Homo sapiens: one gene and its partners. The protein of the gene in region 3 purifies or fractionates together with the protein of the main gene of each other region. This does not show direct contact. Each region holds a gene or a part of one and is shown on either strand. Other genes may lie near its edges.

Region 1 (7,439 bases), on a different chromosome or scaffold from region 3:
ATCAACCCACATGTCCATCAATGATAGACTGGATAAAGAAAATGTGGTACCTATACACCATGGAATACTATGCAGCCATAAAAAGGAACAATATCATGTCCTTTCCAGGAACACGAATGGAGCTGGAAGCTGTTGTCCTTAGCAAACTAACTCAGAAACAGAAAACCAAACACCGCACGTCCTCACTTACAAGTGGGAGCTGAACGATGAGAACAGAGGGACATGTGAGAAGGAACGACACACACTGGGGCCTGTCAGTGGGGAGAAGGGAGGGAGAGCACCAGGAAGAATAGCTAACAGATGCTGGACTTAATACCTAGGCAATGGGTTGATCTGTGCAGCAAACCACCATACATGCATTTACCTATATAACCTGTACATTCTGCACATGTACCCTGGAACTTAAAATAAAAGTTGATTAAAAAAAATTTAACAGAAGAAAAATAATCTTTTCTTGATTCAGGAAGTGTTCAGCTTCCCTTCCCCCACATTAGTTTCTTTTTTACCTTGTATATTTCTGCCAGAGCAAGCTCCTGGGTATTAATTTTTAGCCAATATGTGATACAGGAGAAGGCAGACTTCTTTAATTAAAAAAAAATTAATTCCCTAAATAGCCATCAAATTACTCCCTTGTAAAACCAAGTTAAAGAGCTTCCAAGCTTAAAACTTTTAAAAGAGAAATGCAGTTTTTAAAAAGGTAGTTATCTGTTTTTAATCAAAGCTTTGTTTTTGCCAAAATATTATATTAAATTTCTATTATATGTATTAAGCCAGTGTAGCAGACTAAAACTTTAGGATTTAAAAATGTAAATAACTAAGGAGAATTAACTGTTGAATCTATTTATGTCAGGATGCTTGACTGAGACTACTCACTGAGTAAGCCTAGTAGAAAATGGCCTGTTAGAAAATGCAAGAGCCCATAAGTCAGCCAGGCTGACAGGTCATTGCCCTGGACTTCTGTCATCTTGCCTATAAAATAAAGCTGCCTATGAAATGAAGGGGTCAGCTCAGATGAACCTTAGGGCTTTCTCCATTTCTAATATTCCATATGTCTGTGAATTTAATTCCATAATCATTTTAAACTACTGTATTTTTTTTTTTGAGACAGGGTCTTGCTCTGTTGCCCAGGCCGGAGTGCAGTGTCATGATCACAGCTCATTGTGATCACGTCAAACTCCTGAGCTCAAGTGATGCTCCCACTTCAGCCGCCTGAGTAGCTAGGATTTAGAGAGGTCCACAACACCACTCCCGGTTGGTGCAAAAGTAATTGCGGTTTTTGCCATTAAAAGCAATGCAATTACTTTTGCACCTGTATATATGTTTGTCGATTTTTTTTTTCTTCGTTAGAGATGGGGTTTTGTTATGTTGCCCATGCTTGGCTTCTGTGCTTTTAAGAGCTGCATGGATGACTCCATTGCATAGCCAGGGTTGAAAGTCATAGATCAAGAGGTTAGGGAGCTGACTGGGCCAATAGAAGAAAAAATGTGGGAGGCCCAATGAAGGTGAAGGAACTCAACAATGGCAAAAGAAGTGACCCATTATAACATGGAAAAGATGGAAACAACTCATAGCTTTAAGTTGAGATGGTAACAGAGATGTTACTTCCCGTCTTGACCACTTATTGATCACACGATGCTGAGGGTTAAGATGTTGGCAGAGAGAACCAAAGATTTATAAACTGATCCAAGAATGTCTGAGGTCTTTTTGTCTATGGTTATTTTACCCTGGTATGCACACTTGCACATGGGTGTTCTCATTTGGCCTAAGAGTGCCTTCTACATTGTAAGGACATCATCATATACTTAGAAGGTTTATTTGATTTTAGAGATGTGCCGGGGCTCTTGGCTTGACAAAGAAAGGTAAAGTGATTCTGTCTTTATCTTTGCCACTCTTTTGATCTTTACCAAATATTACCTGGCTTGTCTGGAGCCAGCCTGTAGGGTTGGGGAGCCTTTCTCTCCATAGTTCCAGGGTTTGGTGAAGCATCTTACACCAGTAAGTATTGATTGAACGTCTGTCAGTGACCTCTGCAAACTCTGCTTTTGTTGTAGGAAGCAGTACAGGTTTTGATTAAGCACTCAGCTGATGTCAATGCAAGGGACAAGAACTGGCAGACCCCTCTTCATGTGGCAGCAGCCAACAAGGCTGTCAAATGTGCAGAAGTGATCATTCCCCTGCTGAGCAGTGTCAATGTCTCCGACCGAGGGGGGCGCACAGCCTTGCACCATGCGGCTCTGAACGGCCACGTGGAGGTGGGTATTTTTATCATTCAGAATTGGAACGCTCCCTCCAGGACTTTCAGCCACAAGTGGAAACTGATCTTCTTGCTGAGATTTTAAAGAATGTGATGAAAATATTTGTACACCAAACCTTCAGCATCTATATCATTCTCAACTTTAGAGCCACAATGAATTGAAAAAGTAGGCTGTCACTTCAGTCTTTTCCTCTGACACACATGACACATGTCCTGCTCTGACATCATATTTCTACTTTGTCAGAACTCCAGATCTCTGACCTGCCTTTAGATTTCATGTTAATTTGGCTCAGATCATCTGCAGGCAGTGAGGAGGCCTCACCATTACAGAATGTATGCTTGATTTCATTGTTGGTTATCTTTCAGATGGTCAATTTACTCTTGGCCAAAGGGGCAAATATCAATGCATTTGACAAGAAGGACCGGCGTGCTCTGCACTGGGCAGCATACATGGGTAAGGATTCCATGCATGGAAAGCAAAGTACAGATAACCTTAACTAAATAAGCCATGGGTCTCTCATTGACCATGTAGGTTTTCTCCAGTCTGACTTCTTTTCAAGCTTGGGTTGCAATTGAATGAAGATTTGGTTGGTTTTACTGGCATGCATAGTGCACTCCAGTCGGGCAGTTGCTTTGTCAGATATTTATTTATCCTACAAAGAAGAGGAGGAATGAATCATGGCTTGGGCCTCTTTGAATGTGCTTCAGTCTGGATTGGAAAGCTGCACAGATTGTGCTTATTTTAACTTGTCATGGCAGTAAAATAAGGTGTTTTAAAAAGAAAGAGCACTGGCTCGGAAAGCAAGGACACAAATTCCATTCGTCTTTTTAAATTTATAAATATTTTTGAAAGAAACAAAAAGAAAGGAAGAAAAGACAAACCTCTGGCTATTTTATAGATGGAGGGCACCAGAGGCGCTGGTGATTATCCTGATAGTCCACTGACGACAAAACTGAAGCCTGCAGCCCTCATTTCTACCCGCTTGGGAGAGTTCACATTTCTACGTTTTTCCTTTTCACTTTTGTTGGCAAATCCCACTGACAAATGAGAGATCTCACAGAGTTTATTCTAAGTGTAGACTTGTGGGAAATGAAGAACTAAGATATTCCCTTTGTGTTTCTAATTGGAGAACATCCTGCCATTAGAAAAATAGACAGGATTCTATCAGCACCAAGTTGTAAACAACCTGAATGCCCATCCACAGGAGATTGTTTTGGTAAATTCTGGAAGATCCACACAAGGGGACACTTTGCAGTAACTACAGTGATGAGTCCATGAGTGTTTATTAACACAGAGTCTGTGATATGTTAAATGAAAGCATATTATAAAACAGTATAAATAATATAATTCTCATTTTCATTGAAAAATCTGTACAATAACAAACTTGGAAAATATTATATGCTAAAATTTTAATTGATTGTCTTTGGGGATTTATGATTGTGGATGATTTTGGTTTTCTTTTAATACCTTTTTGCCTTTCTGAATCCTTTTTAACAAGCATATGTGCCTTTTATCATCACTTTAAAAATTAACATTAATTGTAGGGAGAAAGAGTAGGTTGGGGCAGGGATGAAATAAATTATGTGGCTAAAGGTGGGTCTGAGTGAATCCTTGGGCTTAAAAAAACAGAATCTTAAACTTTTACAAGCATTAGCATTTAAAAAAAAAAGTTGACATGGATTTTTGAGTTGGCTGAAGCATATGAAATGACTGCGTGGCACCTGCAGGACTGGAGCCAGTGACTGTGGGAGACAGCTGTGTAGGCCGAACACACACTAAGCTAGTGTGGATAGGACTCAAAGAATGCAAAGTTTCACGATTGCTCTCTGCTGATGTATATACAGTTAAAGCATTTGGATAAATGACTCTAAAGAAATCAAATCATTGTTTTGTGTGCTGTCAGGATACAAATAGGAATAATAGGCAAAACCAGGGCAAATAGCTTAAGATAGCAGCACTAATAATCGAAAAAAATTTTTTCTATATAAAGTCTTGGAGAGAAAAGAGTCAAATTTTAATAAAACAAGCCAATACTTTCCCCCCACCCCAACACACACACAAAGTCCTGGAGTCAGTACTTGTCTTCTACCCTTCAATTTTCAGCCATATTTAGAGCAATGATCCTGAAGCATTGAACAATCTTCAGTCCCGAAATAAAGGTCAAATATGCTTGTTTCTTTGTTTATTTATTTATTTATTTTTTGAGACAAGGTCTCGCTCTGTTGCCCAGGCAGGAGTGCAGTGGTGTGATGTCGGCTCACTGCAGCCTCTGCCTCCCAGGTTCAAGTGATTCTCATGCCTCAGCCTCCTGAGCAGCTGGGACTACAGGCATGTGCCACCATGCCCAACTAAGTTTTGTATTTTTAGTAGAGATGGGGTTTCACCATGTTGTACAGGCTTATTCTATATATAGTGAATTATGGAACAGAGTAAAATATTGTAGAAAAAAATGCTAACAGGAGCTAAAACTAGAAGGGTTTTCTGTTTGGCCTCTAATTCATGAGGATACTTTTAAGTTGAGGCATATGTAATTGCCATTTTTGTGGGTCCAAATACAGTTGAGCAGCAGTAATTTTATATGATTAAACAATAATCTGGGGTCATTCTCATTAATTGTTTTTTTTTCTTTTATCAGTTTTTCCTAACTGAATTGTCATTGTTAAACTTTTCAGTGAGGAATGGCAATTGTTTTCAAAAGCATTGCTTTCATTTTAATACAACATTTTTAAAGGCTCTCTACTAATATCTTGGCAAAACCTCACCATTATTCATTAGTGTGGTAACAAGCATCACCTAGATCTCCTTGAAGAGAAGGCTCACATATGAATCATCTTTTTTCTCCCCACAGCTTTTACATTATGCCTGACTATAGGAGGTACTCAATAAATATTTGTTGAATAGTTGCCATGAACCAGCTTTTTACAAATAACTCAGCAAAATACTGGTGGCGATGAAAGCTAATAGTTGATAATTTAGGTGAAATGAATCAGCAAATTGTCCTATAAAGGTTAACGATGTTTTCTGCTGCTTTGTTTGTAAAGGCCACTTGGATGTTGTAGCATTGCTCATTAACCATGGCGCAGAAGTGACCTGTAAGGATAAGAAGGGTTATACCCCTCTGCATGCTGCAGCCTCCAATGGACAGATTAATGTTGTCAAGCATCTCCTGAACCTGGGGGTGGAGGTGAGCTATGATGAATGCATCAATGCATGGCCAGTGTATTTGTAAGATTTCTGTTATTCTAAAGTTAAATCCTGTTTGCACTTTAATTCAAGGGCAGGGGAATTGTTTTCTAGCATCCTGTCTTTTTGAGTTTTTGTGGGCAACTGATGAAGGGCAGTGGGGGCATACACTAAGCAGAGGAAAACTGGAAACTGAATAACTTTCTATATCAACATAGATAAATATATAGACATAAAGATTCTATGTAATATATATTAACCAGTTGTTCTTAAAGACTGGCCAAGGTTCTGCATCCCACCTTCCAAATGTAGCCTTCTAAGTCATGACTTACAGCAGAAATGAATGAATAAATGGCAGAGACAAACAGCAGCAATGTCTACTCTTGAGCTGGAAAAGGCAGACTGCTGCCTTCTCTTTCTGCTGGTAGAACAGGAGCAGTGGTGAGGCTGGAACATCCTGTCCCCCAAGAAAGGAAAACCAAGTTGCATCATTATGGAAAACCATAATGAGGAAACCAGGCATCCAGGGCAGGTCTCAGAAAGCAATAGGGAGCCGTGGACGAAACACACCTCCTGACGGCACCACTGCTCTGCTACTAAAATGCAACCTGGTGAGGTGTCGGACTCCAGAGCAAAACAGAGAGTGGATTCTGACCCGCCTTCCATGTTTAGACTCCACAGCCACCTCCCCTGCCATCTCCGCAGCCACTTCCTCTGCCATCCCCCACCATTTCTTGAGGTTTTCTGTGCCCCAATCCTAGAGTGTGGGACTCTTTTCATTCTCCTCTGATTTACTTCTCTTTTGGTGTTTTGAAAGCAGCTTTGCCCTTCACCTTTTATTCCTTTGTTAGCTGAAAAATACCTCTCCCCAGGATGAAACTTCTCTGTCTCCAGTTCATTTTTTGCCACATTGACTTTTTGCTGATCTTTACCATGGGGTGACAAGCATTCCCAAGATGACCACACTGGGGCAAGAGTAAGCTCTGAACAATTATATTGGCGGATGGCTATTTCCTTTCTCTAGCCACAGCCGTTATGCTTTTTGTGGAAAATGGAGTAAACTGGCTCTAATGACTTTAATCACCCTGTGTTGGACTCTTTTGCAGATTGATGAAATCAATGTCTATGGAAATACAGCGCTTCACATCGCCTGCTACAATGGACAGGATGCTGTGGTTAACGAGTTGATTGACTACGGTGCTAACGTGAACCAGCCAAACAATAATGGGTTCACCCCTTTGCATTTTGCTGCTGCCTCCACTCATGGTGCTTTGTGTCTTGAATTGTTAGTAAACAACGGGGCAGATGTTAACATTCAGGTATGACACTCTTAGTCTCTGTGTTGAATGCCTTTGCATTGAGCTTCTGTTTGAGCAAAATCAACTGCTGCAAATTATGCCATGTTTTAGTGAGTTGGAACCTCACAGCCTTGTCCTGGATTTGGAGGCTATAAGAAAAGTTGTCTGGAGGCTGAGGCAGGTAGATCATGAGGTTAGGAGTTCAAGACCAGCCTGACGAAGATGGTGAAACACCATCTCTACTAAAAATGCAAAAATTAGCCAGGCGTGGTGGCGGGTGCCTGCAATCTCAGCTACTCGGGAGGCTGAGGCAGAGAATTGCTTAAACCCGGGAGACAGAGGTTGCAGTGAGCTGAGATTGTGCAACTGCACTCTAACCTGGGCAACAGAGCAAGACTCCGTCTCAAAAACAAAAAAAAAAAAGTTGTGTTATTTTTCTTCAGGAGTGGTGGTATCAGCTGAAAGGTACCAAGGCTCCAGCCGTGTGTTCTTGTTAGCTTAGTGAATGTGTCAGGACAAATACTGGATCTCTAGGATATTGACTTGCCCAGAAGCTAATACTGAGGTGAATGTTGAGCTGATAGGGCAGTGTTGCTAAGAATTCAAAGGAAGGCCTAATAATGATTGTAGGCCTGTTTCCAACTCCAGTGTGGGTTTAGAGCTTCTCAGATACCTTCTTTCTTTTCTTTCTTTTTTTTTTTGA
Region 2 (7,439 bases), on a different chromosome or scaffold from region 3:
CACCCAAGGCCAGGAGTGGTGGCTCACGCCTGTAATCCCAGCACTTTGGGAAGCCGAGGTGGGCGGATCATCTGAGGTCAGGAGTTTAAGACCAGCCTGACCTAAATTTTAACCCCATGGCTAAAAATACAAAAATTAGCCAGGGCGGTGGTGTGCGCCTGTAATCCCAGCTACTCAGGAGGCTGAAGCAGGAGAATTGCTTGAACCCGGGAGGCGGAGGTTGCAGTGAGCTGAGATTGCGCCACTGCACTCCAGCCTGGGCAACAGAGTGAGACCCTGTCTCAAAAAACAGACAAAGACAAAATGTTTTGTGACCGCAATAATTTTAAATCCCAGTATTACTGCTTTTATTTAATAAGATGCAAATACTTAGGACTGGTTGAGAAAAAGTTGTAAGAATATACAAATACTGTCATCGTATTATTTGTTCCCACCCCCACAGCCCAATCAACTGAATTTTAAACTAAATGCCACGTTAATAATAATAGCAAAAGCATACCTGCATCAGATTAAATCGTGCTACTTCATTAATAGGAGCATCGGAAATTATTCCATATTGTTCTGGATTGACAACTGCAGGACAAATGAAGCAGGCCAACAGGAGATCAGTACACATTGCCCTGACCTCCCCAACTTCCAGCCTATCTACACAGGAGAGGGTTTTGTACATCTGAGACACGATCCACCTTAAACTATGTGGAAAACAATATGTGTTCTGTTTGAGATAACCAATAAATTTGTTCACCAAAGCCACTAGCTTTGCTTCATTGGACTCCACCATTTCTTGAACTTTTTGCCTGAATCTATCTGAGCCCTTCTCTCCAAAGAGTTTTTCCTGCTGAGATGGAGAGAACCTCTCAATTAGCTTGTTTGGATCTGTTTCCAGGTGATCTTCATCTTCAACAAGCAGTTGCATAATTGGCTCATGTAAAGTGGCTGTGAGGAAAAGTTTGGCAGAAAACAGTCCTTCAGAAAAAAGTTTAAATAAGATGCTGAAGGCACAAGTTCCTCTCCTCAAAAGTCGCCTAGGGTTGTCACTTTCTTTAAGTTCAAATTCAATCAAGTATCGCAAAACCTGAAGGAGGTAGCTTTCATCTTCTTGCATGATGCAATTGCCATACAGGGAGGTAAAAACTGTGTAAATAACACTTTGTGTGTTCTCCTGATTAAGTTTCTCTCCAGCAACCAAAGAGGAGGCAATAAGACGAGGATTTTCCCTCAATCGACTCAAGAATTCTCCATAAGCAGTCTCCTGAAATCCCAATTGCTTATACCCATCAACAAATTGTGTATCTTCCAAAATTTTGGCATGTTGGCAACATTCAGCAGGGGAAGCTTCAGCACTAAAAAAAAAAAAAAAAAGAGCAAACAAGCAAAATAATAGTATTAATAATAATAACACATATACTATATCCAAACATGGATATGTGAGTTGATTATGGTCCCAACAATGAGGTCACTCTGAATTGCTAAAATTTTTTAAACTAACAGCAACTCAATGAGTAAAGGACAACAAAACTAAAAAGTACAAAGGACAATTTCCTCTTATCAAATCAGAATCAATGAAAAGTATTGGGGCTGGGTGCGGTGGCTCAGACCTGTAATCCCAGCACTTTGTGAGGCCGAGGCGGGCAAATCACTTGAGGCCAGGAGGTCGAGACCAGCCTGGCCAACACGGCGAAACTCCCATTTCTTCTAAAAATACAAAAATTAGCCAGGCATGGTGGCAGGCACCTATAATCCCAGCTACTTGGAAAATTGAGGCAGGAGAATCACTTGAACCCAGAAGGTAGAGGTTGCAGTGAGCTGCAATCATGCCACCGCACTCCACCCTGGCCAACAAAGCAAGACTCTGTCTGGAAAAAAAAAAAGAAAGAAAGAAAGAAAATTATCAGTTTGTAGATCCTAAAAACTGTCCAGAGCTGCCCTCTTATGGATTAAATTAAAATTAGCTACAGGAAGGACACAGTGGCTCACACCTGTAATCCCAGACTTTGGGAGGCCAAGGTGGGAGGATCACTTGAGCCCAGGAGTTCAAGACCAGCCTGGAAAATATGGTGAAACCCCATCTCTACAAAAAAATATGAAAATTAGCTAGATGTGGTGGCGTGTGCCTGTAGGCCCAGCACTCAGGAGGCTGAGGTGGGAAAATCGCTTGAGCTCAGGAGCTTGAGACAGCAGTGACTCAAGATCATACCACTGCATTTCAGCCTGGGCGACACAGCCAGATCCTGTCTGAAAAAAAAAAAAATCAGCTACAGTTAAACTGCTTATGCTTATTTATGGACATAAGAAAGTTTACAAATACTCAAGTACTAAAAAATAATAAAAATGAAGTCGATATCAGCATATTGCTCAACCATTCTCAACAGCAACATGCCAGTATGTAATGACCTGCAGAATCACATCCTTTAACTAGGCTTTTTGCTTCTGGAAACAAATCCAAATAAAATAAGCCTAAAAGATGTGGGGAAAAAACCACAATGCCCACAACAGCACTGTTCTTTTTTTTTTTTAAACTCATTTTTATTGAGGTAAAATACAGTAAAGTGCACAAATGTCAAGTGTTCAGCTTGAACAATTTTTACACATACATGCACCCAGTAATCACCACTCAGATTAAGACATGGAACATTTTAAAAACCCAAGAACGCTTTCACGTGCCCTTTCCCAGTCAATACCACCCTCTCAAGCCCAAAAAGTAACCATTATTCTGATTTCTGTCATCAAAGATCAGTCCTGTCTCTTTTTGAACTTCATACAAATAGAATCATACAGTATGTATTCTTTTGCATCTGGCTTATATTCTCAACAGCACTGATATTCTTAGAGTTAAAAACTGTTCTTGGCCAGGCAGGGTGGCTCATACCTATAATCCCAGCACTTTGGGAGGCCGAGGGGGCAGACTGCGAGGTCAGAAGTTCAAGACCAGTCTGACCAACATGGTGAAACCCCGTCTCTACTAAAAATACAAAAATTAGCCAGGCATGGTGGCACAAGTCTGTAATCCCAGCTACTCAGGAGGCTGAGGCAGGAGAATCTCTTGAACCCAGGAGGCAGAGGTTGCAGTGAGCTGAGATTGTGCCACTGCACTCCAGCCTGGGGGACAGAGCGAGACTCCAACTCAAAAAAAAAAAAAAATAAAATAAATGTTCTTCGTAGGTATTAAGACAATAAAATGTGGTTTCTAAACCCGAAAAATAGCTATACAATATCAAAACATGGAAATACATATATATATATATATATATATATATATATATATATATATATATATATATATATATTTTTTTTTTTTTTTTCTTTTGAGACAGAGTCTCACTCTGTCACCCAGGCTAGAGTGCAGTGGTGCGATTTTGGCTCACTGCAACCTCCACCTCCCGGGTTCAAGCCATTCTCCTGCCTCAGCCTCCCGAGTAGCTGGGATTACAGGCGTATGCCACCATGCCCCGCTAATTTTTGTATTTTTAGTAGAGATGGGGTTTCATCATCTTGGCCTGGCTGGTCTTGAACTCCTGACCTCGTGATCCACCCACCTCGGCCTCCCAAAGTGCTAGGATTACAGGTGTCAGCCACCACACCCAGCTGGAAACCTATATATTAAATAATATTAGGAGAAAAGCAGAACAGATAATTTACTCTCTACAACAACATTTTTTTTTTCTTTTGAGGAGACAGAGTCTCGCTCTATGGCCCAGGCTGGAGTGCAGTGGCACAATCTCGGCCCACTGCAACCTCCACCTCCCGGGTTCAAGCAATTCTCTGCCTCAGCCTCCCGAGTAGCTGGGATTACAGGCGCCTACCACAATGCCCAGATAATTGTTGTATTTTTAGTAGAGACGGAGTTTCACCATCTTGGCCAGGCTGGTCTTAAACTCCTGCCCTCATGATCCACCCGCCTTGGCCTCCCAAAGTGCTGGGATTATAGGTGTGAGCCACCACGCCCAGCCAACAATAACATTTTATATAGACAAAGACACAAAACCAATTGGTGTGATATAAAATGTCAATGCTTAAGTTACAATTTTCTATAAAAGTGCCTAAGTTACTTAATAATCCAAATAAACTGTATTATAAGCAAAGACTCACCTTAACATTGATGTAAATTATCTTAAATAATGCACTTTGTTGGAAACAGATTCATTTATTTATAGTTACTAATTTATTTACAGAATCATAGTGGTTCACAAAACTTAAAACCTGAAAATCATCTCTTTACCTGGTTATGATAAGCCGATCCAAATTGATTCTCTGTTGCTTCGCAATCCATGCTGTACGATACAACTTTTCAGCTGTCTTAAGTACATCTGCATTGAGCCTCTGAATGAGCTGTTTCTCAGAGTTTACATATAAGCGTTCCTGCTTGAGGTGATGAGCCAGAGTATGAATATCTAGTTTCACCATCTTCAATGTGGGAAAGGCTCAAAGGCTGATCACTAAGAGTAAAAAGATAAAGATTTAAAGTTTATGTATGTCACTTAAGTTCTTTTCTAAAATCAAAAGGGACAGGAGAATACTTTAAGAATTCAGTTACATTTGGGCAGGCGCGGTGGCTCATGCCTATAATCCCAGCACTTTGGGAGGCCAAGGCGGGCGGATTACAAGATCAAGAGATCGAGACCACCCTGGCCAACATGGTGAAACCCCTGTCTCTACTAAAACACAAAAAATTAGCCAGGTGCGGTGGGGCGCGCCTGTAGTCCCGGCTACTCAGAAGGCTGAGGCAGGGGGATTCCTTGAACCCGGGAGACAGAGGTTGCAGTGAGCTGAGATTGCATCACTGCACCCCAGCCTGATAACAGAGCAAGAATCGTTCTCAAAAAAAAAAAAAAAAAAAAAAAAAATTAGGTTACATTTGATGCCACTTTTAACTCTAATTTTCAAATAATCTCTATCTTTTTATTACAGAAGTATTACAGGTTCAGCATAGAAAAATTGGTAAATACAGATAAGCAAAAAGAAAAAAAAGCTCACTGCTAAGGCCACCGCTTAGAGACAGGTGCTGTAAACCCTGTGTATATCCTCAAATACAATGTCTATTTGTTAACCCCAGAGTTATCCTTGACTGTGCTCTTTCTAATCACAATCAAAATATCCTGTTGATTCTATCTTCAAAATATATTTAAAATCTGACTACTTATTCCCCCCTCCATTGCTAATCACATCAATTCTCACTAGGAGGTGCATAATCACCACATCCTAAGTGATCTCGCTGCTTCCTTTCTTGTACTTCTAGAGTCTGTTCTCTACATAGCATAGTGAATTAAAAAGTCAGATCACAGCCGGGCGCGGTGGCTCACGCATGTAATCCCAGCACTTTGGGAGGCCAAGGCAGGTGGATCACCTGAGGTCAGGAGTTCGAGACCAGCCTGGTTAACATGATGAAACCCCGTTTCTACTAAAAATACAAAAATTAGTTGGGTGTGGTGGTGTACACCTGTAGTCCTAGCTACTCGGGAGGCTGAGGCAGGAGAATTGTTTGAACCTGGTAGGCGGAGGTTGCAGTGAGGTGAGATCATGCCACTGCACTCCAGCCTGGGCAATAGAGTGAGACTCTATCTCAAAAAACAAAACAAAACAAAACTTAAGTCAGATCACTTCATTCCCCTACTGGAAACCATCCACAGGCTTTATTTCATGATAGAATGAAATCTGAAGGTCCTATATGATCTACCCCTGGCTACTTCTCCAATTTCCTCTCCTACAATCCCACCCTAGTTCACACAGCTCCAGAACATCTGCCTTCTTGCTGTTCCTTGAACAGGCCAAGCATGTCCCTCTCTCAAAGTGTCCACATTTGCTGACCTCTCTGTCTGGAAGGTTATCCAGTATCTTCATTCCATTCAGATCTCTCCACTCAAACGTGTATTTAGAAAGGCCTTCTCAGACAACTCCTTCTAAAATAGAAAATATAACTTCCTAATCCCTCTTCTGGCCTTTTAAAAAAGCACTGCCCCTATCTAGCATTATATTACAGATATCTACCTGCATGTTAATCGTGCTTATTGTGAGGCTTCCCCACTAGAAGGTAAGTGACAGCAGGGCCAAGCCTTGTTTGCTTTGTTCATTCACAGCTGTAATTTCAGGGACTAGGAGACGGCCTAGTTCACAGCAGGAGTTGAATAAATATTTGCCAAAGGAATAAATGAAATCTCACTACTCTTATTTATCTAGCAGCTAAACAAACTGATACAAATAGCACACATATTTTAAAGCATTATTATTTAAGCTATGCCCTTGAATCTAGAATTTGTGCCAGATCACAAATGTTAAATCAACAACAGAAATACCTGTGGCACAGATAACAAAACATAATATTGTGTGTCTGGGCAGCAGACAGTCATCAAGTTAGCAAAAAATTTCTTGGGTTGGGCACGGTGGCTCACACCTGTAATCCTAGCACTCTGGGAGGCCAAGGCAGGTGGCTCACTTGAGGTCAGGAGTTTGAGACCAGCCTGGCCAACATGGTGAGACCCTGTCTCTACTAAAAATACAAAAATTCACCAGGCGTGGTGGCAGGTGGCTGCAATCCCAGCTACTCAGGAGGCTGAGACAGGAGAAACTTGAACCCAGGAGGCAGAGGTTGCAGTGAGCTGAAATCGCACCACTGCACTCCAGCATGGGCAACAGAACGAGACTGTCTCCAAAAAAATAGGAGAAAAAAAAAAAAAAGGCCAGGCACAGTGGCTCACACCTGTAATCCCAGCACTTTGGGAGGCCAAGGCAAGGGGATCACCTGAGATCAGGAGTTCAAGACCAGCCTGACCATCATGGAGAAACCTGGTCTCTACCAAAAACACAAAATTAGCCGGGCATGGTGGCACATGCCTGTAATCCCAGTTACTCAGGAGACTGAGGCAAGAGCATTGCTTGAACCCAGGAGGCAGAGGTTGCAGTGAGCTGAGATCGCGCCACTGCACTCCAGTCTGGTGACAGAGTAAGACTCCATCTCAAAAAAAAAAAAAAACCTAAGAACTATATGTGGCCGGGTGTGGTGGCTCACACCTGTAATCCCAGCACTTTGGGAGGCTGAGGCAGAGAATTGCTTGAACCCGGGAGGTGGAGGTTGCAGTGGGCCGAGATTGTGCCACTGCACTCCAGCCTGGGCAACAAAGCAAGACTCTCTCTCAAAAAAAAAAAAAAAGGAAGAAAGAAAGAAAGTGTTAGGATGTCTGCAACTTGTACATGGTTCAGCAAAAACATTAAGAGAATTTTTTTAAATATAGCTAAATATAAACTGTTGAACTGAGGTGGTAGGTATATAATGATCGCTGTGCTATCTTTCAATGGTTTTTGTATGTTAGAAATTTTTCATAATTAAAAAATGGGGTAAAATACTTTAGAAATTCTCAAACTGTGCCTTTCTTGCTGCTTAATTCAATGTAATTGAACAAATATATGACTGAGTTTCGCTGGAGCCTAGCCAAATCGCCTAATCT
Region 3 (7,732 bases):
TTCACATCCCCCCCCCTGCCCCCACCACATCCCCCCATCTCTACCCCCTACCACATCCCCCACCTCTGCCCCCCACCACAGCCCAGCATTCAGAACTCTGAGACCCCTGGGCCTGGGCTCCGAGATGGGGGCTGCAAAGCCACATGGAGGTGACCCTGGGAGAGGCGCCCCTCCCCACCACACAACCTCTGAGTGGGGACTCAGGAGGGTCCCCAGACTGCAGGATCTGGAGAACAAGGAGCAGGCCAAGAAAGTCTGCCCAGCCAGCAGTCTCAGCACTGGGGCCCACAGCCCTGGGTTCCAGGGCAACGTGGCCTGGCCCCCGACTCCTCCCATCCCATGGCAAGGTCAGGGCCCCCCTCCAGGAGGCCCTGCAATCCTCTGGGGGGGATGGCCAGGGGAGAGAGCACTCCCCTAGGGCCAGGAGGTTCTTCTGGGCCACGGGTGGCAGCCGAGACCCCAGGCTGCCAAGTTTCCTAAGAGAAGGAAGGCCAGCACCTCGCCTCCTTGTCCTGACTTGGGGTTGGGCCAGCACCACAGTCTTTGCACTTCAGAGCCTGGACAGGCCCCGCTCATCCACCAGCCCGTGCCCGGCCCACTGCCCACTCTCCCCTACTTGAGAGGCCTGGGGCAGGGGCACTGCCCTGGCTTCAAGATGAGAAGAGCCCCTATGAGGGAGAAGGGTCCAGAAGGAATGAGCCCATCGGCCCCCTGCACGTGGGGGTCCAGGTGACCTGCTCTCATCTGTAGCTGTGCTGCTCCCCTCCCCCGCAACCAGGGCTACCAGTGGCTGAAGGACAAGATCCTCAGTGAGGAGGGCCGGCGCCAGCAAGCCAAGCTGAAGGAGCTGCAGGCCATCGCCGAGCGCCTGGGCTGCACCCTGCCCCAGCTGGCCATAGGTAACGGTGGGGTCGCCATGGGGCCAGTGCCCCTGGGGAGAACCTGCCCCAGCTGGCCGTAGGTAACAGGGTGGGGTTGCCATGGGGCCAGTGTCTCCGGGGAGAGAGGGAAGGGATCCCTGGACATCATCCCCCAGCCAGCCTCGGGTAATCGGGCTCTAAGGGGCATGGTTGGGACCCCATGCCTCTAGGGGGATGTCAGGAGTCCCTGAGGACCTGGGCCACCCCCTCCATCTGCCAGCCATAGGTAATGGGGCTCCCGCTTTCATGGGAAGAGGATGGGGAGCGCTAAGCACTTGGGCCACCTCTCCATCAGGGAGCAGCGGGCTCCCCCATGCCTCCTCCAGCCACCTCTTAGACAAAGCCCGTGCCCAGCACTGCAGGGCTTCCTAGACCCCCTCAGACCCCCAGACCAAGATGCTGGGTCTCTCGGCCCAGTCAGAGGCAAGGCAGACCCATCAGGGGCCCCTGTGGTGGGTGTTTCTCCCTCACCTTGGGTCTCGCCGCCACAGCCTGGTGCCTGAGGAATGAGGGAGTCAGCTCCGTGCTCCTGGGGGCCTCCAATGCGGACCAGCTCATGGAGAACATTGGGGCAATACAGGTAAGAGTGAGAGGCCCTGCTGGGCAGAGGGCCCATCCCAGCCCGAGCCCCGTCCAGTGCATCCTCCCAGGCTCGTCCTGCGTGCCAGGCTCTGTTCTAGGCACTCAGGATGCGCCCGTGAACCATCAGAGTTGTGCTCCTGGAGAGCTTGCTTTCCAGCAGGAACAGACATGAACACTAACTGCACGAAACAAGGAGGTTAGAATGTGTGTCAGGGTGGACGAGCGCTGTAGGAGAGAAGCCAGAGATAAAGGGAGGGAGCTGGGGCCAGGGACGGTGGCGCTGCAGACTCAGGTTCAAGGGGGCCTGTCAGGTGGGCTTGTTGAGAAGGTGGTGCTTGAGCAGTCTTGAGAGATGCGGAGTAAGTCACGCAAATGCCTGCGGGAAGAACCTTCCACCAGCAGGAAGAGTTGATGCAAAGGCCCAAAAAGGCCTGGAGCAGAGGGGCAGATCCTGAGAGGCACGAAACACCTCCAGGGACTTCTGAGTGAGACGGGAGCCGTGGCAAAATTGTGGGCAGAGGAGGGCGAGCTGCAGCTCAGCCTGGAAAGGGAGGCTGCTCTCCGGCTGCTCCATCGGGGAGGCTTTGGGAAGCAAAAGTCGAAGCAGAGAGCCCTGGTGGGAAGTGGCAGCTGCGGGTCCGAGACGGGAGTGGTGGTTGGATCCTGGATGTTTGGGAAGGTGGGGCCCCCGGGACTGGCTGACAAACTGGATGTGGGGGTGAGAAGGCGAGGTGGAAGTCGGTCCCCGGGTGTGTCACCCGGAAGGGTGGCGGTGCTGTATGCTGAGGCAGGCGCAGCTGGAAAAAGCAGTCACGGACATGGAAGTCCAGCATTTGGCCTGGAGTTTCCATTTTATGTCACTGCTGCCACCACCCTTCAGGAAGGTTCTAGGGCACCTTGACATTTGAGAGGGAGTGCACAGACCCAGGCATGCTTCCTCTCTGCCCCAAACCTTCTGAAACACAAAAGCAGCGTGGCCTCCATCTGCCTCAGATGGAGCCCAGATGTGATGGGGCAACCCGGGCCTGGCCAGCCGACCATCTGGAAGAGCCTGGCCCCACCTCCTCCCCAGGCCAGGCCCGTCTTGTTGGTGGGATTCTGATTTGTTGTTGTTCTTGCACGCAGGTCCTTCCGAAACTGTCATCTTCCATTATCCACGAGATTGATAGTATTTTGGGCAATAAACCCTACAGCAAAAAGGACTACAGATCCTAAGCCGCCCCCGCCCGCCTGCTCGGACAGTTTCCGTTCCCTCCTAGTCTCTGTTCGCTCGCTTAAGCTGTTTTGAAGCCAAGTGAAGAGTGTGGTTTGCATCCAAGAGAAAACACCACACTGTGATGTCATCGGGAAATGATCTCCCAAGTCGCTGCCAGACACCACCCACTGCTTCGCCGGACAATGTCGAAGTCCAGTCTGTGCCGGGGAAGGCACTGGTTAGGAAGGATGTTCAAACGGTCCCACCCAAGCCTGTCACCTCTGCTCATCCTCCAAGACCACCCAGCTTTCTCCCAGCCACAGCCAAGATTCCCAAAGTCAAGGCCCAAAGATTTCCAAGGTTCCCAAAGTCAAGGCCAGGCCAAGGCCTGGTTGGGTCCTTGGGGCGGGCAGGGCCAGCCTCTCCTCTGCTGAGAATCCCCACTTGGTGTAGGGGGAGAGGGGAAAGGGGTCTGGCCCATCGAGGGGCCCCTTCTGCCAGGGCCTTGGTTGCTGGGGCAGGGCCTCCCCACTGGGGGTCTTCCTCCACCTCCCACTTTCCAAGGGCTCCAGGAATCTGGGGCCTGACCACAGATTCCTCTCCCATCCTTTTCTGCTCCAACCTGCCCCACTGGGTCCCGGCAGGGGCCATGCCTACCAAGCTCGAGCTGGCCCTTGACCCCCACCCACCCCCACCCTTGCTGGCAGGGGCAGGGACCCCAGGGGGATTGACTCTGCAGTTTGGGAGCCACAAAAAGCGTAGCGGTGTGATTTCTAGCTCAGCCTCCCACCGTCTTCCTCCTACACACCAATGATGAGCCTCATGCCAGTGAGGCCCGGAGCGCTTGGGAGGGGTCCCAGTGGGGCAGGCCCCTCTGTCTGGCCACCCCTCTGTCCTGGCCCCGGAAGGCCCTGTGGTCATGTGCTCCTAGCTGCACGGTGGCTGCTGGCCACACCACGGCAAGTGGCAGCAGGGGCCGGCCCTGTGCACAAGGATGCACTCCTCTCGGCCCCTGTAGACTTTCTCTAAAGCCGCCCGCCAGCCCAGGCCGCTGCTCTGCACCGAGCTGGTGGGCTTGGGTTTTGTGGAGCGCATGCTTGGACCCTTTCAGTAAGGAAGGGTCTTTGGGGTTTTCTGTGCCCATGACTTGGGGGCTGCACCCCCACAGCACCCCCACAATGTAGGAAAAGACCTCAGGGAACCTCTCCCTGGAAAGACGGGCAGGGCTGGTTAGCCCCTCCCACTGCCTGACACCTGGGACAGGCTGGGCAGAGGGGAGAGAGGGCAGGACAGGCCAGAGTGACGCCCCCGTGCAGCTTGGGCCGGAGGGCAAGGGATGCCAGTAAGTCTGCAGGTGCGGGGTGCCACCTACAGGCCCAGGCCTGTGTCCCAAGCAGTACCCAGGCTTTGCAGACCACGCGGGGCAGGGCTCCACTGAAGCCACCCCCACCCCTCGCCAGCTAGCTCCATAGGGAAGCCTGTGTCTCCTGCCCCCAGGGCGCACCCTCAGTGCAGGCACCTCTGTTCCCGCTTTGCCCCTGGAGGAGCCACTATTCCAGAAGGCTCCACCCTGCCGTCCTGCGGGAGCCTGCTGTCCAGTCCTGGCCGGGCCAAGGCCTGGGAAACTGTGAAAGTCAGAAAGGCCAGCGGGGAGAGGCTGGGGCGAGGGGAGGAGGGGGATCAGCTTCTGCTATTACCGACCCCCCTTCATGCTGCCCCTGGCGCCTAGAACCCTTGCCCCTCCTCATAGACCAAGTCCCGGGGGTCTCCACTCAGTCCTGCTGCCTGCTTCACCAGAAGCAGCCCTGTGAGTGTGGGGTGGGGAAGTCCCTTCCCAACGGAGGTCCCAGCCTATGGCCCTGGGCCCAGGTGGGGGTCGCCTGCTTCCTTCCCGGACAGGGTCCTGCAGTGGCCAATGGTGCCAGAGGGCAGGTGGCCCACCCTCGCCATCAGGGAGGGTGGCTGGCCCCATCCCCACTGCCACCCAGCCCCACCCACTGTTGGAAGAGGGACCAGCGCGAGGTGGTGCCCAGGGTGGGCACTGCTGCTTAATGCGAGGCACACCTGGGGCAGCTGAGCCCCCAAAGGCTGCGGGTTTGCCAAACACAGAGAGGCCAGGCCCCAGTGTCAGGATGCAGTCAGCCTCTGGCGCAGCTCTTTCCACGACCTGGTTCCTGGATGTCCTGCTTGCTCCACACCCATCTACAGGGAGGATGTGAGGGGGCTCTGCCTCCTAGGGCCAGGTCCCCCCTCTCGGGAGGAGGTATTGGGTAGGACCATCCAAGAAAGGGCAGAAGACCAAGGGCAGTCGGGGTCTAGAAAGGAGGGCGCTGGCCCTGCTGGACGCTTCGGAGCCCCCACTGTTTCCCACTCAGCTTTGTGCTCAGATCCCAGGTCCCAAGGAGTGACAGGGGCTTCCTCCCACCTTCTGTCCTTGTCCAGTCATGTAAATAATGTGCTTTTTCTCTCCCCGAGTCTTTTTTTTTAAACCTACCGTGGTTCCTCAGCTAACTGCATTCCCTACCCAGGCAGAGACTGTCCTATGCCTCGAGCTTCCAAACGAGACTCAGACCGCGACACAGCCACCGTATTTATGGAATGACAAAATAAATAAAGCCCAAACCCATCGGTCTCTGTGACTTTTTGCTCCTCTCATTTCCTCAGGGTCAGGGCTGGGCCAGGGTGACACGGGAGGGGAGGAAAAGGCTGCCAGCAGCAGGGCCTGGGGCATCCCCCAAACCGGAGCCTGCAGCCAAGGGCAGGTGGGTTGGAAAGGGCCCGTGGAGAGAGAGCGGGGACAGAGAATGGGGACAGGGTGGTCAGAAGACCTGTCCCCCATCTCTCCCAAGCGATTCAGCCAAGGGAGGGTGCGTGCCTCCCCTGCCGCCCCCAACACACACATTCTCTTTCACCAACTCTGAGGGCCCAAAGCTGCTTGCTGGGAGGCTGCTGTCCCTCTGGGGACCTGGCTGGCTGCTGTTCTCATAAGGACAGAGGTCCAGGCCTGGGGAAGCTCTCATGGTATGTGTTTGGGGTACAGGTGAGAGGGGCCTCACCCCAGCACACCCCTGTTTCGGGCTCCCCTCCTTCCCAGTGAGCCCCTGCACCCGTGAAATGACCATCCCAGGCAAGAGAAGGCTTCCGGACACGCCCCCACCCCCCACCACTCCTCCCTGGCCCCAGCCCCCACCCCCATTCTAAATCTTGAATCTTAAAAAGAAAAAGCCTCTGATTAAATCCTTTCCCAAAGGATTTATTAAAACACAGAAAACCAAAACATACACACAGAGTACAAAGTAAAGGTGATTGTGTTGGCTACAGCCTCTGTCCAGCCTCCCGTGGGCGAAGACCAGACAAGCCACGGCTCACAGGGGAGCCTGGCTTCCAAAGCTGGACCCGCCCCCGCCGGGGCCACCCTGGCTGGGACTCCTGGCGCGCCTTGCACCCAGCCCAGGGCCCTCCCTTTGCCAGCCTGGGGCTGTGCCTGGGGAAAGGGGTCGGCCCCCTCTTAGCTGGGCCTGGGCCGGTGGAGTCTGCTCCCTCCACACCCCTGAACTCAGACCCCACGGGCCAGTGGGGACCCTCCCTTCCTCTCCAGGGGTGCTTGGGCTCCAATCGCTGCTTGAGGAGTTCAGGACACACACACACACCCAACGGGCCCTTTCTGGGTTATCGCACCTAAAAAAATACTTTGTTTAAAAAAAAAATCTGAAAATTAAAGAAAAAAAAAACACAACGCCAGTGAGTTTGGGCTGATGCACCACAACCTGTAAACTTTCAGACACAGAAAACAGGACAGGAACCAGCTGCCGAGGCCGAGGCGGGCCTTGCACAGAAGAGACTTGGGGGAGGGGCCGAGGCCAGGTCACCAAGACGGTGAGGGCAGAGGGGCGTGCCAGCCTCGGCCCCCACCCACGCCCTGTCCCCTGCCCACAGACCCTGACGCACACTGGAGGCTCCAAGTGACCGACACTTGACCAAGTCCATCTGGCTTCTGGCTCCCATGTACCCGAGCCCACTCTCCACTCCACCTCCTTGGGCCTCAAGTGTCCTGGGATGACAGGAGTGAGGGCTGCAGGTGTCACCGGGCCAAGGCTTGGTCAGCTCCTGACCTCGGCAGGGGAGCACCCGGGGGACTCTGGGAAGGCAGCCCCCAAAAGCAGGAGGACTTCAATCATAGGGGGCAGGGAAAGTCCAGCCTGCCCCTGGGGGAAGCCAAGTTTGCAAAAAACGCAGGAGCTTCGGAAGGTGGCTTTCACGGGGGACGCTGCTTCTGCCTCAGGCGTGTATGAGAGGGCCCTGCAGACGTGCTCACTCCACCCCGAGTCACCTGAGCCCATGGGGCAATGCCTTCCAAGACCTTGGCTCAAACATGGCTCTGCAGAAGCCCTACTCAGCACTGGCTTAAAGTGGCTGGAAATTTCCAATCGCAGACTGGCACTTTGGGCTCGCGTTCATGCCCGAGGACCCTGATTCTACCAGCAGCAAAAACCAAACCCAGCCCAAAGACGCCAAACATACGGACACCACCATCACCACTTTTGGCAGAGATGACTGACAAACCAAGAAGGACATTCTCAGATCTTTTCTCCTCTCCCAAACTGGTCAGCCCCAAACCCGCTCTGACTCTAGTAGCCCACCCCTCCCGGGCCCCGGGGTGCTGGCCACGGACAGCACCACCCCTTCTGGACCAGGCAGTGCAGGGGGCCCAGGCCCAAAGGAGCCCTGGCCAGGCTTTCCTGGGTGCCCGAGTCTAACCAGGCAGAGGAGAAGGGAGCCCTGGCGAGGCCTGGGAGGGAAGCAGAGAGGAAGGGACAGAGCAAGCCTGCCTGAGAGGAAGGCGCACAGGGGAGGGACCATCAGCCCTTGGGGTGGAGACACAGACCCCTGCCCTGACCGCCACAGGCCTCCAGTCCTGCTGCTCGGGACCTATCTGCTGTGGGCCAAGGAAGGTGGGCACTGCTCCCAACGAGGGCCAACCCCAGTGCTTGCCACTGCTTGTTTGGGGACGAGGGCACGGGAGTGAGCTTCTGAC
Region 4 (7,439 bases), on a different chromosome or scaffold from region 3:
ATAGAATTATTTCCCGAGACTACAGCCATTATGTATAAATTCTTCAGTTCAAAGGAGTAGCAAGCTTTTTAATTACCCCAAATGTTTAATTCTAGAAATAAATCCGCCTTCTCTAAGTTTTAAGTGACTGTCTTCATTTGGAGGAAATGGATTTTATTTCCTGAACCCCAGGAAAAGAAATTTTGAATTTGAAAACACTTATGTCACCAGTTTGTGGATGTTGGAACTGTGTGTGTCATTGGTCAAACACCAGTCATTTGCAAATGGCTCCCCTTAACAGGAGAATCTACCCAGGAAATTCCGTATCTTACTGGCAGAACTTGCTGCTTTAAAGTGTTTATTATAGTCTCAGCTACTTGGAGGATTACTTAATAAGCCCAGGAGTTCTAGGCTGCCATGGACTGTAATCTTGCCTGTGAATAATCACTGTACTCCAGGCTGGGCAACATAGTGAGATCCCATCTCAAAAACTATATATGTTGATTGTAGAAAATTCGAAAATATGGACAACTATAAAGAAGGTAGTAAAAATGGATTGTAATTCTTAACATGCTAGTATATTTTTCTTCAAGCATTTTTATAAGCATGTACTTTATTTCATAGCTTACACAGAAGATAGATGCAGTTTTGCTTCCTGCTTTATTTATTTTTATGTATTTATTTATTTTTTGAGACGGAGTTTTGCTGTTGTTGCCCAGGTTGAAATGCAGTGGCACAATCTTGGCTCACTGCAACCTCCGCCTCCCGGGTTCAAGCGATTCTCCTGCCTCAGCCTCCCAAGTAGCTGGGATTATAGGCATGCCCCACCATGCCTGGCTAATTTTGTATTTTTAGTAGAGGCGGGGTTTCACCATGTTGGTCAGGCTGGTCTGGAACTCCCTTACCTCAGGTGATCCATTCGCCTTGGCCTCCCAAAGTGCTGGGATTACAGGTGTGAGCCACCCCACCTGGCCCCTGCTTTATTTTTTCTTATATATTGTGGGCATTTTTACACACCATTACAACTTATAAAGTCTGCCAGAGTGTTCGTGGTTACGACTTTCTAGGGGTCTGCTTTGTGATATGGATTAATATTTACTGTCCTTCACTTGACCCTTTGTCACATTGTGTGATTATTTTTTCTAGTTTACTTTTTTTTCCCATGTAAAACTTTTTATTTAACATTTCTGTAATCAGAACTCTCAATCTTTTGTTTAAAACTTGGAAAGCATTCCTCACATATTTAATTTTGCTACATGCATGATTTTTTAAATGCTAAACCTTTGATTCATAAGGAATATATTTTTGTTTGGGTTTAACCCGTTATTCCAATAGCAACACCACTTTATTAAACAGTCTTTTATGTCTTCACTCACTTGATATGCCATCTTCATGTGTTGTTGTTGTTGTTTTTTGAGATGGAGTCTTGCTCTGTCGCCCAGGCTGGAGTGCAGTGGCATGATCTCGGCTCACTGCGACCTCCAACTCTTGGGTTCAAGTGATTCTCCTGCCTCAGCCTCCCCAGTAGCTGGGATTACAGGTGCCCGCCATCACGCTCGGCTAATTTTTTGTATTTTTTTAGTAGAGCTGGGGTTTCATCATGTTGGCCAGGCTGGTCTCAAACTCCCCTCCTCAGGTGATCCACCTGCCTCAGCCTTCCAAAGTGCTGGGTTTACAGCCATGAGCCACCGTGCCCGGCCAAGGATATTTTTAATGCTTTTTGTTACATACTGCCAAATTCTCAGTTGTATGTCTTAGTAATATTTAATGAGTATGGCTTATGATTCAGTTTCTAAATGCTCTGAAAATTATAAAACCAGTGCTGTAGTAGTTACCAATTATCCCTGAACATACACAACAGTTAGGAAATAAATTAAATAAACTTTTTTTCGGAAGTAAATAGAATTTTACTTAAGAAATAAAATATAGTGAAATACTTTAAAAAATCAGAATTTTCACGTTGAATTCAGGCTCAAAATCTCTTGAAATGAAAACAGTAGATGCTTTGAATAGTGAAAATTACAATTCAGCCACACCAGTAGTACCATTCTGTTTATCTGTTTTTCAGAGATGTCTCTGAGTTGACGGGATTTCCTGAAATGTTGGGGGGACGTGTGAAAACTTTGCATCCTGCAGTCCATGCTGGTAAGTGGTTGGTATCTTTAATGTAAAAACAGTCAGTGGTTTCCAGGAATATTTTAGTTGATAGCGTCCTAAAATAAAGGAAGAAAAAGGCTCAAGAGAAATTTACATATAAAGTTAATGTTATGAAGTTGCTGCCAGATTTCATAATACGTTAGAACTGGTTTAAAATCCAGCTTGTCTTACTACTTGATGAATTCAGATTGTTTTCCTCTGCTTGCTATTAGTCCTGACCTGATACCTAATTTAGAGTCTGGTGTTTCCTGCTCAAGTTGCTGAAGATATTTAGATTTCATCGTATGAAAATACTTTTAAAATAGTTCAAACTTAGAAGAAAGCATCACAGCGTAACTGACTTGCAAAGGAATTTTTTTTTTCAAAGTGCTTTACATTTGTTCGTTCACCTAAGAATGAATTGTATATAAACCGAAACGGCAAGAAACTGGTATCCTCCTAGTTTGTCAGTTGTGGTACAATTTGGTGAATAAAGCTGAATGGCTACAGATCATCAGACAAGCCATTGACTTACAGAAACGCATAGACTGTTCTGGAACTAGCAACAGTTTTGTAAAATTCCTTTTACCTTTTTTACATTTTATTGCTCAAGAAACTGGGATCAAGAACTGAAGAAAAAGATTTTTAAATATATCTCTCTTTTTTTTTTTTGAGACAGGATTATACTCTTGCCCAGGCTGGAGTGCAGTGGTGCGATCATGGCTCGCTGCAGCCTCTGTCTGCTTCCCAGGCTCAAGCAGTTCTCCCACCTCAGCCTCCCAAGTAGCTGGGACTATAGGCATGTGCCACCACACCCAGCTAATTTTTGTATTTTTTATAGAGACGGGGTCTCACCTTGTTGCCCAGGCTGGTCTCGAACACCTGGGCTCAAGCGATCCCCCACCTTAGCCTCCCAAAGTGCTGGTATTACAGACATGAGCCACTGTGGCCAGCCAGATATATCTGTTAATCCTAATTTTTTTGTTTGATAACTCCCCAACTACATGTTTGATATTCTTTAATTAAGAATATTATGCTGGGCATGGTGGCTCTTGCCTGTAGTCCCAGCACTTGGAGAGCTGAGACAGGAGAACCGCTTGAGCCCAGGAGTTTAAGATCACCCTGGGCAAGATGGCAACACCCCCCTTCTCTTTAAAAAATTGAAAAGACCAGCTGGGTGTGGTGATGCATTCCTGTAGTCCCAGCTACTTGGGAGGCTGAGGTAGGAGGATCACTTGAGCCCTGGAGGTCAGGGCTATAGTGAGTTGTGATTACGCCACTACAATCCAGCCTGGGCGATAGAGTGAGACCATCTCAAAAAAATAAATTTTTTTTTTAATCAATGGGATTTAATTTGATTGAAGACACTATGTTGAAAGACATTCCTTAATCTGACTTGTTTTTTGAAGCTAATGACTTTGTTTAACTTTTTTAAATTAGGAATCCTAGCTCGTAATATTCCAGAAGATAATGCTGACATGGCCAGACTTGATTTCAATCTTATAAGGTAAAAACCTGAAATTAAACTTTTAACACATTACGAACCAACGACAAAGACTATGCCAAACCTGGTGTCCCTGTGTTTTCTTACTCACTATAAACCTTTACTGCGTACCTTCTGTGTGACTTTGTATGTGTGTAAGCATTTTGGTTTGGCCAGATTTATATACCAAAATACATACTGAAGTTTTTTAGGAAGTTACAATCTAAATCTTAGTATGTATAGGTTGAGTATCCCTTATCTGAAATGCTTGGGACCCAGAAGTGTCTTGGATTTCAGATTTCTTCAGATTTTGGAATATTTGCAGGTAACATGCCAGTTGAGCGTCCCTCAGAAATCCGAAATGCTTCAGTGAGCATTTCCTCCAAGTGTCATGTTGACGCTCAAAAAGTTTCAGATTTTGGAGCATTTCAGATTTCAGGTTTTCATATTAGGAATTATCAACTTGCACAACTAACTGAGTTATTTGCATAAAGATACTGGCTGTTTCTCTTAAATATACGTAACAGCTTTATTGAGATCTAATCCACATACCATACAACTCACCAATTTAAAATGTACAAATCAGTGGTTCACAGAAGTTGTGCAACCATTACTGTGTTAGTCTGTTCTGCATTGCTATAAAGGAATACTAGAAGCTGGGTAATTTATGAAAACAGGTTTATTTTGGCTCGTGATTCTATAGACAGTACAAGAAGTGTGGTGCCAGCATCAACTTCTGGTGAGGGCCTCAGGAAGTTTATAATCACAGTGGAAAGCAGAGGGGGAGCTGGCATATCCCATGAGAGAAGAAGCAAGAGAGAGGGAGAGGAGGAGTTGCCCAGCTCTTTTACTTTTTAACTTTTATTCTTAATTTAATTTAATTTTATTTTGAGACAGGGTCTCGCTCTGTTGCTCAGGTTGGAGTTCAGTGGCATGACCTTGGCTCACTGCAACCTCTGCCTCCTGTGTTCAAGTGATTCTCCTGCCTCAGCCTCCTGAGTAGCTGAGATTACAGGCGTTTGTCACCACGCCCAACTCATTTTTACTATTTTTAGTAGAGATGGGGTTTCACCATGTTGGTCAGGCTGCTCTTGGAACTCCTGACCTCAAATGATGCACCCACCCCGGCCTCCCAAAGTGCTGGGATTAGGTGTGAGCCACCACGCCCGGCCTGCCCGGCTCTGTTAAACAACCAGCTCTACATGAACTCAGAGTGAGGACTCATTATGGGGAGGGCACCAAGCCATTCATAAGGGATCTCCCCCGTGACCCAATCATCTCCCACCAGGCCCCACCTCCAACATTGGGGATCACATTGCAAAATGAGATTTGGAGAGGACACACATCCAAACCATATTAATTGCCACATCCAATATTAAAACATATTCATCACCCCCACCCTAAACCCTATACCCATACGCATTTATTCTCCATTTCCCCAACGTCCTCCAGCCTCGGCAACCACCAATTGTTACGTGTCTGATTTGCCTGTAGTGGACATTTTCATATAAATAGAATCTAACAATATATGGTTTTTTTGTTCCTGGCTTCTTTCACTTAGCATGTTTTCAAGGTTTATCCATGTTATAGCATAGTATCAATAGTTCATTTCGTTTTTAGTGCTGAAAAATAATCCATTGTGTGGTCATACCCTGTTGTTTATCAGTTCATTTGTTGATGGACATTTGGGTTGTTTCTACTTTTTGAATATTATGAATAATGCAGCTATAAATATTTGTGTATAAGTTTTTGTGTGGACATACACATTCGTTTCATTGGGGTATATACCTAGGAGTGGAATTCCTTGGTCATATGGTAACTATGTTTAGCTTTTGAGGAACTGCGACCCTGTATTTCAGAGTGCTGCACCATTTTACATTTCCAGCAGCAGTGTGCTGGATGGGGCTCCAGTTTCTCCACATCCTCATCAACGTTACTATCTGTCTTTTTGATTCTAGTCATTCTAGGGGTTCTGAAGTGGCATCTCATTGTGGTTATAATTTGCTTTCCAAATAATGTGGAACACCGTTGGATGTGCTTCCTAGCCAGTTGTTTACCTCCTTTGGAGAAATGTCTGTTGAGACCTCTTGTCCATTTTTAGTTGAGGTATTTATCTGTTTATTATTGAGTTGTAAGTTTATTTCCTCTCATTCTATGGATTGTGTTAGCCTTTCTTGATGGTTTCCTTTGATCATCACAAGTTTTTTCTTTTTTTTGAGACGGAGTCTTACTCTCGCCCAGGCTGGAGCACAGTGGCGTCATCTTGGCTCACTGCAACCTCCACCTCCCGGATTCAAGCGATTCTGCCTCAGTCTCATGAGTAGCTGGGGTTACAGGTGCCCGCCACCACACTTGGCTAATTTTTTTGGATTTTTAATAGAGATAGGGTTTCACTATGTTGGCCAGGTTGGTCTTGAATTCCTGACCTCGGGTTATCTGCCCGCCTTGGCCTCCCAAAGTGCTGGGATTACAGGCTTGAGCCACCATGCCCGGCCCACAAAAGTTTTTAATTTTGATGATGTTGAATTTATTTTTTCTTTTGTTGCTTGTGTTAATGGTGTCATGTCTAAGAAACCATTGCCTAATCCTCAGTGATGAAGATTTTTGTGTATATTTTCTTTCTTTTTTTTTTTTTTTTTGAGATGGAGTTTCGCTCTTGTTGCCCAGGCTGGAGTGCAGTGGCGTGATCTCGGCTCACTGCAACCTTCGCCTCCTGGGTTCAAGCGATTCTCATGCCTCAGCCTCGCAAGTAGCTGTGATTACAGGTGCCCGCCACCACGCCCAGCTAATTTTTTTGTGTTTTTAGTAGAGACGGGGTTTCTCCATGTTGGCCAGGCTGGTCTTGAACTCCTGACCTCAGGTGATCCACCTGCCTCGGTCTCCCAAAGTGCTGGGATTACAAGTGTGAGCCACCGCACCCGGCGTGTGTACATTTCTTTTAAGAGTTATTTTAGTGTTAGCTCTTATACTTAAGTCTTTGGTTCATTTTAAGTTAATTTTCATATACAGACATGAAATAGAAGTCTTATTTTATTTTGTATGTGGCTGTCTAGTTGTCTCAGCATCATTTGTTGAAAAGACTGTTCTTTGCCCAATCGAATGGTCTTGGCACCCTTGGTCCATGTGCCTGCTGTTATGCCAGTACTACACTATTACTATAGGCTGGTAACAAATTTTGAAATCAGCAAGTGTGAGTCCTCCAACTTCATTTTTCTGTTTTTTGTTTGTTTGTTTGTTTTGTTTTGTTTTGTTTTTGAGACGGAGTCTGGCTCTGTTGCCCAGGCTGGAGTGCAGTGGCGCGATCTTGGCTCACTGCAAGCTCTGCCTCCCGGGTTCACGCCCTTCTCCTGCCTCAGCCTCCCGAGTAGCTGGGACTATAGGCGCCCGCTACCATGCGCAGCTAATTTTTTTGTATTTTTAGTAGAGACAGGGTTTCACCGTGTTCGCCAGGATGGTCTCGATCTCCTGACCTCGTGATCCGCCCGCCTCGGCCTCCCAAAGTGCTAGGATTACAGGCGTGAGCCACTGCGCCCGGCCCCAACTTCGTTTTTTTTATTCAAGATGACTTTGACTCTTCAGAGTCCCTTGCATTTCCACATGATTTTTAGAATCAGCTTGTCCATTTCTGCAAAACAACGCAGTTGGAATTTTCATAGGTATTGTGTTGAATCTGTAGATCAATTTGGGAAATGTTACCATCCTAAGAATATTAAATCTTCCAGTCTGTGAACATGGGGTGTCTTTAATTTCTTTAACATTGTCTTGTGAAGTAGAATTGTTTTCTTAATTTTTTTCTCATTCACTGCTAATGTATATTTTAATACAATTGATTTTTATATAT

The links.
Region 1: the proteins of KCNAB2 (region 3) and ANKRD44 purify together in Homo sapiens (co-immunoprecipitation; one large-scale study listed by IntAct). This does not show direct contact.
Region 2: the proteins of KCNAB2 (region 3) and GAPVD1 purify together in Homo sapiens (affinity purification with mass spectrometry, with the first as the bait; one large-scale study listed by BioGRID). This does not show direct contact.
Region 4: the proteins of KCNAB2 (region 3) and ATIC fractionate together in Homo sapiens (co-fractionation; one large-scale study listed by BioGRID). This does not show direct contact.

What each region holds. Positions count from the first base shown.
Region 1 is NC_000002.12:197,120,650-197,128,088, reverse strand, and holds part of ANKRD44 (serine/threonine-protein phosphatase 6 regulatory ankyrin repeat subunit B), read left to right. Parts: intron 1-2,051; coding exon 2,052-2,252; intron 2,253-2,620; coding exon 2,621-2,708; intron 2,709-5,296; coding exon 5,297-5,439; intron 5,440-6,544; coding exon 6,545-6,757; intron 6,758-7,439. UniProt on the Homo sapiens protein: Putative regulatory subunit of protein phosphatase 6 (PP6) that may be involved in the recognition of phosphoprotein substrates.
Region 2 is NC_000009.12:125,295,887-125,303,325, reverse strand, and holds part of GAPVD1 (GTPase-activating protein and VPS9 domain-containing protein 1), read right to left. Parts: intron 5,898-7,439; exon of another isoform or gene 5,806-5,897; intron 4,438-5,805; exon of another isoform or gene 4,437-4,437; 5' UTR 4,405-4,436; coding exon 4,220-4,404; intron 1,344-4,219; coding exon 500-1,343; intron 1-499. UniProt on the Homo sapiens protein: Acts both as a GTPase-activating protein (GAP) and a guanine nucleotide exchange factor (GEF), and participates in various processes such as endocytosis, insulin receptor internalization or LC2A4/GLUT4 trafficking.
Region 3 is NC_000001.11:6,095,858-6,103,589, forward strand, and holds the end of KCNAB2 (voltage-gated potassium channel subunit beta-2), read left to right. Parts: intron 1-778; coding exon 779-899; intron 900-1,411; coding exon 1,412-1,500; coding exon of another isoform or gene 1,501-1,674; exon of another isoform or gene 1,675-1,698; intron 1,699-2,627; coding exon 2,628-2,717; 3' UTR 2,718-5,323; downstream 5,324-7,732.
Region 4 is NC_000002.12:215,316,110-215,323,548, forward strand, and holds part of ATIC (bifunctional purine biosynthesis protein ATIC), read left to right. Parts: intron 1-2,047; coding exon 2,048-2,124; intron 2,125-3,555; coding exon 3,556-3,622; intron 3,623-7,439. UniProt on the Homo sapiens protein: Bifunctional enzyme that catalyzes the last two steps of purine biosynthesis.